Homo sapiens: one gene and its partner. The protein of the gene in region 2 binds, or shares a complex with, the protein of the main gene of each other region. Each region holds a gene or a part of one and is shown on either strand. Other genes may lie near its edges. A codon is read from its position in the direction of its gene.

Region 1 (8,029 bases), on a different chromosome or scaffold from region 2:
CTGAGGCAGGAGAATCGCTTGAACCTGGGAGGCAGACATTGCAGTGAGCAGAGATTGCACCACTGCACTCCAGCCTGGGCAACAGAGCGAGACTCTAATTAAAAAAAAAGGAAGCTAAAAAAAAAAAAATTTAAGGGATATGTTCCAGGTGCTATTATGGAAGCTCAAGGCTGAGCAGTTTGGACAACCCAGGAGTCCCAGAAAAACTTCATGGGAGATGGCAATTTAGCTGAGCCTTGCGGGATAAGTAGGTCAAAGCAGAAGCAACGGATATTCTGGGCAGAAAGGACAGCCTGGCCAAAATGGTGAAACCCAGTCTCTACTAAAAATACAAAAATTAGCCGGGAGTGGTGGCAGGCGCCTATAGTCTCAGCTACTCGGGAGGTTGAGGCAGAGAATCGCTTGAACCCAGGAGGCAGAGGTTGCAGTGAGCCAAGATCGCACCATTGCACTCCAGCCTGGGCGACAGAGCGAGACTCTGTCTCAAACAATGACAAAAAGAAAAAGTGTAACTGTAGGGGTGGGTTGCCCCTCCACACCTGTGGGTGTTTCTCGTAAGGTGGAATGAGAGACTTAGGAAAGAAAAAGACACAGAGACAAAGTATAGAGAAAGAAATAAGGGGACCCGGGGAACCAGCGTTCAGCATATGGAGGATCCCGCCAGCCTCTGAGTTCCCTTAGTATTTATTTATCATTCATGGGTGTTTCTCGAAGAGGGGGATGTGTCAGGGTCACAAGACAATTGTGGGGAGAGGGTCAGCAGACAAACACGTGAACAAAGGTCTTTGCATCATAGACAATGTAAAGGATTAAGTGCTGTGCTTTTAGATATGCATACACATAAACATCTCAATGCTTTACAAAGCAGTATTGCTGCCCGCAGGTCCCACCTCCAGCCCTAAGGCGGTTTTTCCCTATCTCAGTAGATGGAGCATACAATCGGGTTTTATACCGAGACATTCCATTGCCCAGGGACAGGCAGGAGACAGATGCCTTCCTCTTGTCTCAACTGCAAGAGGCATTCCTTCCTCTTTTACTAATCCTCCTCAGCACAGACCCTTTACGGGTGTCGGGCTGGGGGACGGTCAGGTCTTTCCCTTCCCACGAGGCCATATTTCAGACTATCACATGGGGAGAAACCTTGGACAATACCTGGCTTTCCTAGGCAGAGGTCCCTGTGGCCTTCCGCAGTTTTTGTGTCCCTGGGTACTTGAGATTAGGGAGTAGTGATGACTCTTAAGGAGCATGCTGCCTTCAAGCATCTGTTTAACAAAGCACATCTTGCACCGCCCTTAATCCATTCAACTCTGAGTTGACACAGCACATGTTTCAGAGAGCACGGGGTTGGGGGTAAGGTCACAGAATCTCAAGGCAGAAGAATTTTTCTTAGTACATAACAAAATGGAGTCTCCTATGTCTACTTCTTTCTACACAGACACAGTAACAATCTGATCTCTCTTGCTTTTCCCCACATGTAACAGCTTGTCTATGAAAGGTAGGAGGAATGGTATTAGAGATCTATAAAGGGTCAGCGGAGGGTCCTCTTACTTTGTTTTTAGGCTAAGAGGAACTTTGATGTGTTTATGGGTTCAGGAGAAAGAGCCAGAAGAGAGACCTTTGAGATGTAGGGAAGAAGAGCTAACTGGTGGTATAAGGTCCCATTGGGAATAAGAGGGGATGAGACTACCGTGCAAATGGGCTGGCAGAGGGAGCGATCATGGTGGGTTGGTGGGATAGTTTGTGCTGGGAAGCTGACAGCTTTTATGCTTATCCATCCTTTGATGGGAATGTTACTGAAAAGCACCGGTGTTGTCTTTTAACTCTTCCTCATCTGCTAAGGATGTGATCTTAATATTGGGACTTTTACCCTACAGGCCATGTAGGCTGATATTTTGTCTTTATTTGTTTGCTGAAGGGAAAAGTAGCTCTCCCAAATTATTTAAATAAGAGATGATTTGTTATGTTTTACCAAAAGGATTAAATGTAACACTGAGGCCGGGTGCAGTGGCTCACGCCTGTAATCCCAGCACTTTGGGAGGCCGAGGCGGGCAGATCATGAGGTCAGGAGTTTGAGACCACCCTGGCTAACACGGTGAAACCCCATCTCTATAAATACATACATACATACATATATACATACATACGTGTAACACTGAAAGACTAGATAGGTCATGGGAAGAGATGGCCCCAATTGTGAACTTAGTAGGATTAGGTTCTTCCTAAGCTAAGAGCTACATTTTTTTGGGAAACAGAGTCTCACTCTGTTGCCCAGGCTGGAGTGTAGTGGTGTGATCATAGCTCACTGCAGCCTTGACCTCCTGGGCTCAATTGGTCCTCCCACCTCAGCTTCCCAAGCAGCTGGGACCACAGACATGCATCACCATGCCTGGCTAATTTTTTAAATTTTTTATGGAGACAAGGTCTCCCTGTGTTGCCTAGGTTGATCTCAAACTCCTGGGCTCAAGCGATCCACCTCCCTTGGCCTCCCAAAGTGCTGGGATTACGGAGGTGAGCCACTGAACCAGGCTTGCCTGTCTGGCTTGCTCACAGTTGCAGCCTCAACAATTAGTACGTAACAGATACTCAATTTTTTTTTGAGACTTTTTTGAGATGGAGCTTCACTCTTGTTGCCCAGGCTAGAGTGCAATGGCGCGATCTCAGCTCCCTGCAACCTCTACCTCCCGGGTTCAAGCAATTCTCCTGTCTCAGCTTCCTGCCTCCTGAGTAGCTGGGATTACAGTCACCTGCCACCACACCCAGCTAATTTTTGTATTTTTAGTAGAGACGGGGTTTCACCATGTTGTCCAGGTTGGTCTCAAACTCCTGACATCAGGTGATCCACCTGCCTCAGCCTCCCAAAATGCTGGGATTACAGGTTTGACCCACCATGCCTGGCCCCCAGACACTCGAGTTTTAAAGGAATGCTATAATAAATAGAAATTATTTTACAACAGTGGGATGAAACTATGTTTTTTTTGTTTTCGTTTTTTTTTTTTGAGATGGAGTCTTGCTCTTTTGCCAGCCTGGAGTGCAGTGGCGCAATCTCGGCTCACTGCAACCTCTGCCTCCCAAGTTCAAGCGATTCTCCTGCCTCAGCCTCCTGAGTATCTGGGACTACAGGCGCGCACCACCACACCCAACTAATTTTTGTATTTTTAGTAGAAATGGGGTTTCACCATGTTGACCAGGATTGTCTCGATCTCTTGACCTCGTGATCCACCCACCTTGGCCTCCCAAAGTGCTGGGATTACAGGTATGAGCCACCGCGCCTGGCAGCATACCATTACATTTTATTTTACTTGGATTTAACAAAAATAAAAAGAAATTGAGGTAAAACTGGTGACATTATTGGATCATTCATTCAGGCAGATTTCAGAATTTGGAGTCATTATCCCGTGTGTTTCCATTTCAGTCAATATCCTTTAGCTCCCTGCTTAGAAATAGGAATTAGCCTTCTTAAACTCCTCCCTCGCTTACCTATTTTTGTTAGCTATTGTAAGGAACATGGCTGTGCTTTGGTCAAGGATAGGCCAAGGTAAGATGTTTACATCCTGCGTGACTCAGCAAGTTTAGACAGAGGCGTATAACTCCACTTGTTATCACAGCCATGTAGGCATAACATGGGAAGGTCATCACTTGGCTCTAAGCCACTATTTTCTGTAAAAGGTATAATTGCCCTGCTGATACTGTACAGGCGTTCGTGCCCAGAGAAAGAGAGAGCCAGAGCTGTCAGTCTTTGCAGACAGACAGGGGGAGCCAGATCACAGCTGAGAGAGAGTTAAGCTGCTGACCCTGAAGGCAAGGGAGAGCCAGCCTCGCAGTTGTGTGGGGGAGCCATGGGACTAAGCAGCTGAGACAAGGCAGACAGTGTGAGAGAACTAGTGTAAGTAAGCTGCTGATGAGAGCTGCTGCTGAATAAAATCATCTTTCACCTGCCTACCGTCCCCTGAGTGTTCTTTCAGCTATCTGTTCATCCACCCACTCCCCTCAGACCTCGATATGGGCTGGAACCTGGCTGTGGGCATGACAGTTGGCATAGTCGTGGACCTGACAGCTATATTATACACTGTCAAGTTTTAAAACATGTATATTGTTTTAATCGTAATTCTCACATTTATTAGTCTTAGGTATTGAAATTGATTATTTTTTCACATTATTATATATATTTTTTTACCTATTCAATAAATGTTAATACTTGTGGAAGAATTGTGGAATCAAAACTTTGTCCTTTTTTTCTTTTAATCTTTTTTGTAATAGAGACGGAGTCTTGCCGTGTTGGCCAGGTTGGTCTTGAACTCCTGAGCTCAAACAGTCCTGCCACCTTGGCCTCCCAAAGTGCTAGGATTAAAGGCGTCAGCCACCGCACCCGGCCCCAAACGTTTAAACAGATGTATTTCAGAACTTTCAGATAAAAAATGAAAGTAGGTTTCTCGTGCCGTGTCGTTTAGGGAAAGACGGCGACGTCTGCACAGTTTAGTTGTGACACCAAGCAGTTGTTCGTCCCCGAACCTGGATGGGCTCCGAGGGCGCAGTGCCTCCAGGAGCCGCCAGGGGCCGCCACCGCCGGCGGTGCCCGACAGCGCTGCCGTGTGCGTCGCCTGCGCGCCGCCGGAAAGGAACCCTGGTCCGGAGGCGGCGGCGCAGTGCATCCTGGGTTGGCGTAGCCATGGCGTCTCGTGTCCTTTCAGCCTATGTCAGCCGCCTGCCCGCGGCCTTTGCGCCGCTGCCCCGGGTCCGGATGCTGGCCGTGGCCCGGCCTCTCAGCACCGCTCTCTGCTCCGCGGGGACCCAGACGAGGCTCGGGACTTTGCAGCCGGCCTTAGTGCTCGCGCAGGTGACTCGTGGTGACTTTGCTGCCGCTTGGCAAGGGTCAGGGATTGGGCCCGGTGGGGGTGGGGGCCGGGCATCCGGGGCGCGCCAGCTGCAGGCAGGGGTGACCCGGGGGGCAGCCGGCTCGCTCCGCAGCCCCGCTGCCTAAAGGTGTTTAGTTGACCCCTGACGGGAGGCCGGGTGACCTCGTAATAACGAGCAAGAGCACTGACTCGAGTCCAGCACTGCTGGGCTGCCGCTTACCGAAACTTTGGACAAGTCTCCTAGCCTGGCTCACACTCACCTGCAAAATTGGGATCCTGGTCTCTACCTTGCGGAGTAGCAATGAGGATTAGATGAGTTAATGCGGCTAGAGCACCTCGTACGGTCTCAAAATAGCGGTCACCGTATTGTAGTGAAAGCAGCATGCAAAGAGGCAGCCACACTGGCCTACAGCCTTCTCCAGAGCGGTTTTCTCTCTGCAGTTCTGTCCTTACTCTTCCCTGCAGCACCTTCTGCCTGTGTCCAGGACTCCTGGAAGTAATTCTAGGAAACAAGCCAAGTGACCTTTGACCAATAAGGATTTGAATTGCGCGGGTCCACTTATATGCGGATTTTTTTTCAACCAAACGCGACCAGTATTTACGGGATGTGCCGCCCCGCGTATAAGGAGGGCAGGCTCTTCCTATAAGCGGATTCTGCAAGGCTGACTGCGGGACGTGAGTGTGCGGGGATTTGGGTATAGTCGGGGGTCCTGGAACCAATCTGCGCAAATACCAAGGAACGACTGTACCTGTAGTATATAGCTTGAGCTGATGAAATCTGCGTGAGGCTGAAACGCCGGGAGGCAGTGATTTCGGTGTTGTTGTTGTTGTTTTTGAGACAGAGTCTCGCTCTGTCACCCAGGCTGTAATGCAGTGGCGTGATCTCAGCTCACTGCAACCTCCGGCTAACGGCAACCTCCGCCTCTCAGGTTCAAGCAATTCTCCTCCCTCAGCCCCCCCGAGTATTTGGGACTACAGGCGCCCGCCACCATGCCCGGCTAAGTTTTGTATTTTTAGTGGAGACGGGGTTTCATCATATTGGCCAGGTTGGTCTTGAACTCCCGACCTCGCAATCCACCCGCCTCGGCCTCCCAAAGTGCTGGGATTACAGGCGTGAACCACCGCGCCCTGCCTTTTTTTTGTTGTTTTCTAAGTTCTCCAGATGACTCTGAAGTGCAGTTGGGAATAAAAATAACCGTCTTAAGGTAGGATAGACTCCCAAGGTCAAGTTATGAAACCCCTTTTCAAAGTCATAGACTTCAGGTAATAGTGGTTTCAACCTTGACTGCATGTTAGTGTGAAAAATAAGTGTGTCTGGCCAGGCGTGGTGGCTCACGCCTGTAATCCCAGCACTTTGGGAGGCCGAGGCGGGCGAATCGCTTGAGCCCAGGAGTTTGAGACCCTCCTAGGCAACATGGTGGAACCCCGTCTCTACAAAAAATACAGAAATTAGGCCGGGCGCGGTGGCTTATGCCTGTAATCCCAGCACTTTGGGATGCCGAGGCGGGCGGATCACGAGGTCAGGCGATCGAGACCATTCTGGCTAACACAGTGAAACCCCGTCTCTACTAAACATACAAAAAATTATCCGGGCGTGGTGGCACGCGCCTGTAGTCCCAGCTACTCAGGAGGCTGAGGTGGGAGGATCGATTGAACCCAGGAGGCAGAGGTTTTAGGGAGCTGAGATGATGCCACTGCACTCCAGTCTGGGAGGCAGACCGTCTTAAATAAGCCAGCCAGCCCGTGCCAGATCGACAGAATCTAGAAGTGAGTACTAGGCGACTATTTTTAGAAGTCATCAAGTGTTTCTTTTGTGAAGCCAGTGTTGCTGTTCACTGACAGTGTAATGGATTCATTCATTGGGCACTGCCCTGTTGGCTGTATCAAAAGGTGAAAAGTGTCACCTTGAAATTAAGGGTTAAAGGCCAGGCGCGATGGCTCACGCCTGTAATCCCAGCAGTTTGGGAGGCCGAGACGGGCGGATCACGAGGTCAGGAGATGGAGACCATCCTGGCTAACACGGTGAAACCCCGTCTCTACTAAAAATACAAAATAATTAGCCGGGCGTGGTGGCGGGCGCCTGTAGTCCCAGCTACTCGGGAGGCTGAGGCAGGAGAATGGCATGAACCCGGGAGGCAGAGCTTTCAGTGAGCCGAGATCGTGCCACTGCACTCCAGCCTGGGCGACAGAGCCAGACTCCATCTCAATAAATAAATAAATAAATAAATAAATAAATAAATAAATAAATAAATAAGGGTTAAAAAGGCAGTAGTTAGAATTGATGAGTGTCTGGTTCCTAAGATTGATTTCAACATTGGGCTAAAATGTGAAGTGACTGTCTTTGTTCTTACAGCATTGATTCTCAGTTGATTGGACATACAGATCACTTAGGCTGGAATACAGATTCTGATTCAGTTCTGGGAAGGGGCCAGAGAGTTTCCACCTCCAGTGGGCTTCCAGAAGATCCTGCTGCGGGTGTTCCTTGGACCATGCTTTGAATGGCAAGGAGCTCAGAAATGTTCCACTATGGCGGCTTGGCTTGCATATATAGCAGAGGAACCATTTTATTTATATTTACAAAGTGGTTTTGACTAAGTTCATTCAAAGATATTGAGGGCCAGCTGTGTGCCAGGACTCATGCTAGCTGTTGAGAGATACAGAGATGGATACAAAAGGAAGACATTAGCTTACATCTTCATTGAACGCTTTGCAGCCCTTATGTCCAACTTGCTGGCTCCTTCTCTGCTGCTGTCTTCTTCCCTAGGCTGTTGTGACACTGTTCTCCCTTGGTTGGTTTGTCCTCCTACCTTGTTGGGACACTTTGCCTTTCAGGCTGGAGTGCAGTGGCATGATCGTGGCTCACTGCAGCCTTGACCTCCTGGACTCAAATGGTCCTCCTGCCTCAGCTTCCTGAGTAGCTGGGACTACAGGCATGAGCCACCACCCCTAATTTTTTGATGTCTGTCTTCTTTTTAGAGACGGAATCTCCTTATGTTGCCTAGGCTAGTTGTGAACTCTTGGGCTCAAGCAATCCTCCTGCCTCAGCCTCCCAAGTGCTGGGATTACAGGCATGAGCCATCACACCTGGTGTGCCTAACCCTTAAATGTTGGTGGGCTCCCGAGTTCTCTTACCACACATGCTCCCTGGACTCTTCACTCCTGGTTTCTGTTATTGC
Region 2 (7,964 bases):
TGATTTGAAACAAAAGGTTATCAGTACCTGAATAAATAATCTCCATTTCAACAGCTCAGCTGTTAAGTTCTACTTATATAACTCAGCCAATGCATAAGGGAAGAAATGATTTATTCCAGACAGAGAGAAAACATCACTAAAATAAAGCTAGTACAGGGCTAAACACTTCAGTGGTCCCTCCCTTCCCACCTCCTACCATTCTAAAACACTTAAGAGTTCTCTAAATAGATCAAGCACCCTTCTTCCTCCATGCTTGGATATACACTGCAATCTTTAACCACATTCCTCATCTGGCTTTTACTTCTCATTCTGGAAACACCTTCTACGATGGAAAGCCTTCCCATAGGTGAAACTCCTGGTTCAATATTCCTCTTCCCTATTCCTTTAGCGTTTACTAATATTACTCATATCGCAGCAACTGTCAAAAAGAAATTATTGGCCAAGTGCCACGACTCACAGCTATAATCTGAGCTCTTTGGGAAGCCAAGACAGGAGAGGCACTGAGGAGTTTGAGACCACCCTGGACATCATAGTGAAATCTCATCTCTACAAAAAAAAAAAAAAACACTTAAAAATCTGCCAGGCATGGTGGCATGAGCCTATAGGCCTAGCTACTCAGGAGGCTGAGGCAGGAAAATCACTTCAGCACGGGAGTTTGAAGTTACAACGAGATATGATAGCACTACTGCACTCCAGCTTAGTAAACAGAGACCCTGTCTCTATAAAATAAATTATTGTTTCGCTTATCTAGTCACCTACAAGTTTCTTAGGGGTGGGGAAGCTCTCATCACTGTGACTATATCATCTTATATAATATATGGTACTTATGGGCCGGGCGCGGTGGCTCACGCCTGTAATCCCCACACTTTGGGAGGCCAAGGCAGCTGGATCACCTGAGGTCAGGAGTTCAAGAAAAGCCTGGACAACATGGTGAAACTCCATCTCTACTAAAAATACAAAAAATTAGCCGGACGAGATTGCACCATTGCACTCCAGCCTGAGAAACAAGAGTGAAACTCTGTCTCAAAAAAAAAAAAAAAGAAAAAAGAAAAGAAAAACCATAACCTATAGTACTTAGGAAGTGTTCAATAAATGCTGAAGGAATGAACGAATGAGGAAAAAGTCTTCAGTTTGTTCATCTGTACAAATGAATGAGTTGATATCTAAGGTCTTCCCCCTTCCCCTTCGTGTTCTATTAAAATGAAGGATCAATGTATAATACTTGGATTCATGTGTGGTGTAGAATAGAATAATTTCTTTTTGTTGTTGTTGTTGTTTTTTCTTTTTGGTAGACAGGGTCTCACTCTGTTGCCCAGGCTACAGAGCAGTAATGTGATCATGGCTCAATGCAGCCTCAACCTCCAGGGCTCAAGCAATCCTCCCACCTCAGCCTCCCAAGTAGCTGGGACTACAGGCACATGCCACCACACCCAGTTAATTTTTGTATTTTTTGTGTAGAGGTGAGGTTTCGCTATGATGTATTTTTTGTATAGATGGGGTTTTGCCATGTTGCCCAGGCTGGTCTCAAACTCCTGGGCTCAAGCAATCCACCTGCCTCAACCTCCCAAAGTGCTGGGATTACAGGTGTGAGCCACCATGCCCAGCTGAACAATTTCTAAATAATATCGTAAGTTACTACTACTATACAAATTTTACTTTATACATCATTTTGATATTTAAGCTTAAGGACAGTAAATTGTTGTTACACTGTTTATTATGATTAGAGAAATTTCTCTTCACAAAGCATTAAGTGGTCATTAACAACCCTAATTTTAATAGAAGGTAACACATGATCTTCCATAAAGAACTACAGGTAGTCGATAACTTTTGATAAATGAATACTAAAGAAATTTTTACGTTTTGATGCCTAAATGGTACCTCCTGTTTTACAGATACTCTCTAAGAAAAATTTCAACCCAGAATAGAATGACTATTAAAGGACGTATGTGTAAGGTCCATTCTTCAGCTTCTGGCCCAAATCTACTTACAATCTCAAATCGAGTTATTTTTTTTAAGTCATCTCCGCAATGAAGATGTGCAAAAGTGAGATGTAGCTACGGAATGATTATTTTCTTTTAGCCTCTCCAGGCAATGATGTCCAACACATTGGTAAACCATTTTAAATAAAATAATAAGGTATTTTTATGAAGACTTGGCTCAGAATTAACTGGGAAGCCTATCACTTTCCTAACTGCAACCATTGCTCGTACTAACAGAGGACTAAGCTACCCAAACTATTTAAACTATACATATTTATTTGGAAAAGTTTTATTTGATTACAACAAAGTTGAGTAATTTAGATACATTAATTATGTACGTTAATGATTAAATTCCTTGATAATTAGGTAGAAACAATTGTATATAGTAATTATTCCAACTTTACTCTCAAAAGCAAAATATAATAAAATAATGTAATCTTTGCTATTTTTAAAAAAGCCAAAATAATCTTCAAGTTTTTCCTTTTCACTCTGATAGCATTCTCTATCAGTAACTTGCATTAATGTTGTAGCTTTGAGGTGCCGCATATCATTTCATATCACTGGCACACAATAGTGTATCAAGAGAAATCAGCTCTGAATCTTACTCTATAACAATGTGCAATTGCCTTGGTCTTGGATCCTTTAAGAAATAGCAAAGGGAAAACTCAAAAAAGTCCTTTCAATAAAGCAGAGGCTAGATTTGCTCAATGACCTGACCAACCAGGAAGTAATAGAAGTTTTGCTATCCTGTTTAAAAAATAATAATAAACAATAACAGACATGAGATTTTCAAGAAATCAGGGAGGAGACTTAAAGATATCTTAATAAAAGTATTTTCTCTTCAGTGCCTTTTAAAAAATGTCATTGCATCAGGATTAGTAAGAATATCTGGATGCAAGGACACCAGGTTGCAAGTACACTAAAGAATGGTAAGGTCAGAGAAGTGTTTTTTCTGCCTTTAAAGTTCCTGAAAATAGAGGCTGGGCGTGATGACTCACACCTGTAATCCCAGCATTTTGGGAGGCCGAGGCGGGCGGATTGCCTGAGGTCAGGAGTTCGAGACCAGCCTGACCAACATGGTGAAACCCTGTCTCTACTAAAAATACAAAAATTAGCTGGGCGAGGTAGCGCGCGCCTGTAATCCCAGCCACTCAGGAGGCTGAGGCAGGAGAATGGCTTGAACCTGGGAGGCATAGGTTGCAGTGAGCCCGAGATCCCGCCACTGCACTCCAGCCTGGGCGACAGAGCGAGACTCCATCTCAAAAAAAAGAAAAGGAAACAGAAAAGTTCCTGAAAATATAAAGTTGTTTAGACATACAGCAGGTATATCGTTTCAAAACCAAATACACTAAAGCAGATGAGAACACAACCGTGACCAAGTGGTTCGGAGAAAGATGGATTTTAATGCAAAGTTGTTTTGTTTTCACGCATAACGTACTTCTCGCTGTGCTTGAGTGCAGAAAGGTGTGGTTCTTCCTAAGGTTGATTACATAAAGCAAGATTCCAAAAACAAGAAAAGTGCTTTGCAAACACAGTAACTAGGACTGGCTGAAGCTTCCTGCGTCCAGTGCCATGCTCAAAGATCAGAACAAGCAACTTTATCCACCACTTTAATAAGATGATTCAAAAAAGCTGCAGTCTTCTGAAGAAAGCCATGGTTGAAAACTTGCTCCGCTTCTTGGAGAAAGCCTAAAGCCCTAAAGGTCTCTAATTATTCTCCAAAGTCTACAACCCAAGCTGCATTTTATGCATTTATTAGGTTACAAAACCACGGGAACTCTTCACTCAAAAGCAAAAACACATCCGGAAAGAGGAAAAAATCCACGGCCAATGTAAACCCCCTACAACACCAACCGCCCACGTCGTACCCCAGGCTGCAATGAGGCCGGCACTCACCCACCGCTCGCCCGGGAAGCCCAGACCCAGGTGTTTCAAAATCAGAAGTACGGCAGGCTCGTTCGCTCTCACGGGCAAGAATCTTAAACCCCAACTTCAGAGATACCCGCGCACGCTGGGCGCTGCCATTTTGACAGAAAGCGGGCCTGCCCCAGAGGCCCCTACGCAGGTCGCCCTGAGCAGAGCCGGAGTGCCACAGAACCCCTAGCTCATCACCTCCACACCCAGACGTCGCATCCCCCGGCCTGAGGAATGCCAAGAAACCCCACCCTGCCGACCAGGATCAGGCGAAATCAAGTCACCCTTGAAATCCCGCAAACTCTCTCAGGCAGCGCCGAGGGCGACCGCAGCCGGCGTGGGAGGGGCATCGGCGGTCAGGGGCGGGGCGTCGGTGCGGCGGCCTTCGGTAACCCGGGCAACGCGGCCTCCTGGATGTAGGAAGGGGCGCTGCCCCCGAAACACAAATGTCTCCGCCAAGACCCCAGACGGTTCCCAAAGGCTCTCCGTGATGCAACTGCACGTCCCTCGAATGCCTGGGCCTCCGATATCCGTCCGCCAGGAGCTTGGCTGGATGCACGGGCGGCCAGTCCTCTTATTTCCCCGCCCTCCCGCCGCGTGGAGCGGCTGCTGGGTCCCGAGCCTCCGGGCGGGGGCGGGATCGGGGCGGGGCGGAGGCATCTCCCTCCCAGCACCGCCCCCTTAGCTGCCCCGAGCCCTGCCTGCGCCCGCCCCCGAAGCGGCGCGGGACGCCTGGCGCCGTCCGCGATCCGCAGGGCTGCCCGCTTAGGCTTAGGCCCGGCCCGCTGGCAAAGCCGAGCCGCAGCATTTTATTTCGTTCGTGGTTTCCGCACAGGCTGGAGTTTCGTGGGTTGGGTCGTACTTGGGACCTCGGCGAAGAGGACCCGTTTATTTTTTTTTCTTTCCAAAATGGCAGCCTCCAGTCGCGCACAAGTGTTATCTCTGTACCGGGCGATGCTGAGAGAGAGCAAGCGTTTCAGCGCCTACAATTACAGGTGACCCAGCGGGCACCGGGGGCCGGGGGCGGGGGGCCAGGGGCCGGGGACCGGGGGTGCGGGCTGACGCGGAATATCCCCGGGGACTGGGAGCCACCGTGGTTTGCCGGCGGCTGCGAGGCAAGGACCGGGCTCCGCCATCGAAAAGCGTGCTCCTGCCTACAGGTGTGGCCTCTGAGACCTCGGGGAGGAGCCTTTCTTTCTACCAGGGGAGACGTTCATGTCTTGTGACGTTTTCCCCCTAAAGGCTATCTTGGTAGTTATTCTAGGAGCATGATTAGTGTTATGTTTCTGCAGAAGAGAAAAAAGGGATGGAAATCAGTCATTTGTGAAGTTAAGGCCAGTGTGTTGCATATGTAAAACTTCCCTTGAGCACTGGAAGAGTTGAGAGTGGAAGTGGCCAGTGAGTAGTACACTGCGACAAAGCTGAAGGCACACTCTAGCACCTCCCTAAAATTTCCTAGGTGTCGTAATGAGTTCTTTTGGTTGCAAGAATCCATTCTATTTAGGGTATGGTGGAAATGCGTAGCGGAAAAGGAAAAAGGGTCTCACAAGCTTTGGAGCTGAAACCTCAGTTTCTCCTGGCTCACCAGACAGAGATCCCGCTTACTGGACCTTGACAGCAGGATATTGAGGGCCTAAACTCACATCTTTAATATAACACATTCACTTTTTCTCACGCCTCCCCACTCCCCTATTTGCCTATGAGTCTTTTATTGTTACTCTTTGTATGTTTTTTCTAATTCAGAGCCTCTGCTTTCACAGTGTTGCTGGTTCTGACCCATCATTTTCTTATGGATTCTCTCTCTGCATTTTTTTTTAGATTTGTTTTTTGTTTTGTTTTGTTTTTACTAACTACCTGTCTCTCTCTGAGTTTGAGCCATATTCCCATGAGAAAGAATCTGGTTGGATCAACTCATCTCTTTACCTCAAGCCTCACTTAGGTGACTGGCCAGACTGTGGATTGGATGTCATAAGAGCAGAGCCTACCCTTGGAACACACCTGGTTAGGTAGGCCCCCCTCCAGCACGTGTGTGAGCTGGCAGGCCCTGAGATGGGTCTGCCCAGTACAACCTCTGTCAGAGGACAGGAACGCTAAGCCTCTTAAGCAATGACTCTCAAATTTTTAGAAACCCGCCTGGAAAATATACTCATGCTGCAAATTTGAAAACAGCATCTGGGTCATACCACTGAGGTTGTATCCACCCAGTTAAGTGGTTAAATTTCACGGGAGAGAATGATTTTACTTAATGACTTTGACTTTGGAGAATAAAGAGTGTAATAATAAGCATACTGGTGGAATTTTAGCAAGAATTAACCAAACACCTAGCACCAAGTACTTAACCAAGTCTGTTGAGGAAACACATGAAATATGCAAGTTAAATAAATAGAAACCATTTGATTTCACCATAGTCTGGAGTAAAATAGTTTGTCATTAAAGCTTACTCAGGATACACAAGGACTTGGAATCAGCAGGCAGTTCACACACTAAGGAAAGTGGCAGGGAGAGGGTTTATGTGAGAGCATGTAAGAAAGTCAAGGTGGAGCCCTCGAAGACTAACTTGGACAAGTCTCTCAATCTCTGTATTTCAGTTTTCTTGTTTATGAAATAGACTGTTGGACTAGACAATCTCTAAGGACCCTTCCATTTCTGAAATTCTCTTTGGAAATGATTTATGAGCAAATGAGGCCCAAGCGTTTTCAAATGAGTAATTGCCAACTGAACAGGAAAATCATTCACGAAACTCAACAGGAAAATCATTCAAACTTTAGGAAAATCATTCAAGACTCTACCTGAAAGGCAGAAAATTGAAAATGGGTTTCAGTATGGGCAACTGTAAGATCATATGCATTCAGAAAATAATTGATCAAATTATACCTTAAGCATATACTTTTAAGCTAAATTTACTATCCAAATATAAATATATTATCCAAAGGAATCTGATAATCATTTTATACTGTTACCTGAGATCATAGACCTAAAAACCGACATTCCTGCTATTACCTCCCTAGATAAACTTACTTGTTATAAAAATACGTCCTTTTACATTAAGGCTGTGTCTTGTGAATTTCAGGAAAAGTCCCTTCCCTCCTCTCTAATCTCTGCAGCTGTTTGTCACTGATGGCAAATCAATAGCAACACAACATCCACTATCAATTCTGTGTGCCACTGCTATCTTATGTTCTTCATGTCTATTAACACATTTGTTTTGACAATAATCTTGTGAGGTAGGTACTATTTGTATTACCCTGTAAGGCAACTGAGGCACAGGGAGCTTAAGTTACCTATCAAAACTAACACAGGTAGTGCTGAATAAGCAATCAAAAGCAGACTAGTAAACGTTTTTTAATGACCTGCGAATTGTGCCTTAAGTAATTAGAGTAGTGAAATAAATACTTTGGAACTCTCTTGCAAGACCTATAATATAGGCCACGTTTTGATAGCAGGAGCCCTGTCTGCTCCTCCAGTCTCAGCCTAAGTCCCACATGTGCATCCTGTCCTCTGTCATCATCAGTTGCAGTTTCCTAAATGTGCCACGTCCTGTTGGGCCTCCAGGCCTTTACAAGTACTGTTCTATCCAGCAGGCCCTTTATCACTCCTGTCTAGAGTGCCCCCTCTTCCTTCAAGATTGAGCTCAATTGTCACCTTCTCTGAACAAAAGTTTTCCCAACTCTCTTCATCCCACAGCTTCCACTCCCATCCCTCCCACCAGCCAAACAGGTCTCATTGCTGTGTGTCATTCTTTTACCTCAGTGCTTCTACAAAACATCTCTGAAGCATGCTTTGCCCAGTGCTATATCACAGCTATCCCCAACCTTCTTGGCACCAGGAACCAATTTCATGGAAGACAGTTTTTCCATGGACCGGGTCAAGGGAGGGGATGGTTTCGGGATGAAACTCTTCCACCTCAGATCATCAGGCATTAGATTCTCATAAGGAGCATGCAACCTAGATCACTCACATGCACAGTTCACAATAGGTGCACCTATGAGAATCTAATGCCGCCGCTGATCTGACAGGAGATGGAGCTCAGGCCATAATGCGCACTCACCCACCGCTCAACTGCTGTGTGGC

Evidence for each region. Proteins that work in one complex are often made in the same cells at the same time.
Region 1: the proteins of LYRM4 (region 2) and NDUFAB1 are in contact, whole or in part, in a crystal structure (PDB 6ODD), measured with the Homo sapiens proteins. Residues at the interface, in NP_065141.3 of Homo sapiens: Arg6 (codon at 4,818), Leu10 (codon at 4,830), Ser11 (codon at 4,833), Tyr13 (codon at 4,839), Arg14 (codon at 4,842), Leu17 (codon at 4,851), Arg18 (codon at 4,854), Lys21 (codon at 4,863), Arg37, Phe40, Arg41, Lys44; in NP_004994.1 of Homo sapiens: Lys92, Asp111, Ser112, Leu113, Asp114, Val116, Glu117, Met120, Glu123, Asp124, Glu129, Ile130, Asp132.

Annotation. Positions count from the first base shown.
Region 1 is NC_000016.10:23,592,928-23,600,956, reverse strand, and holds the start of NDUFAB1 (acyl carrier protein, mitochondrial precursor), read left to right. Parts: upstream 1-4,640; 5' UTR 4,641-4,666; coding exon 4,667-4,834; coding exon of another isoform or gene 4,835-4,869; intron 4,870-8,029. UniProt on the Homo sapiens protein: Carrier of the growing fatty acid chain in fatty acid biosynthesis.
Region 2 is NC_000006.12:5,257,572-5,265,535, reverse strand, and holds the start of LYRM4 (LYR motif-containing protein 4), read left to right. Parts: upstream 1-4,585; 5' UTR 4,586-4,802; coding exon 4,803-4,888; intron 4,889-7,964.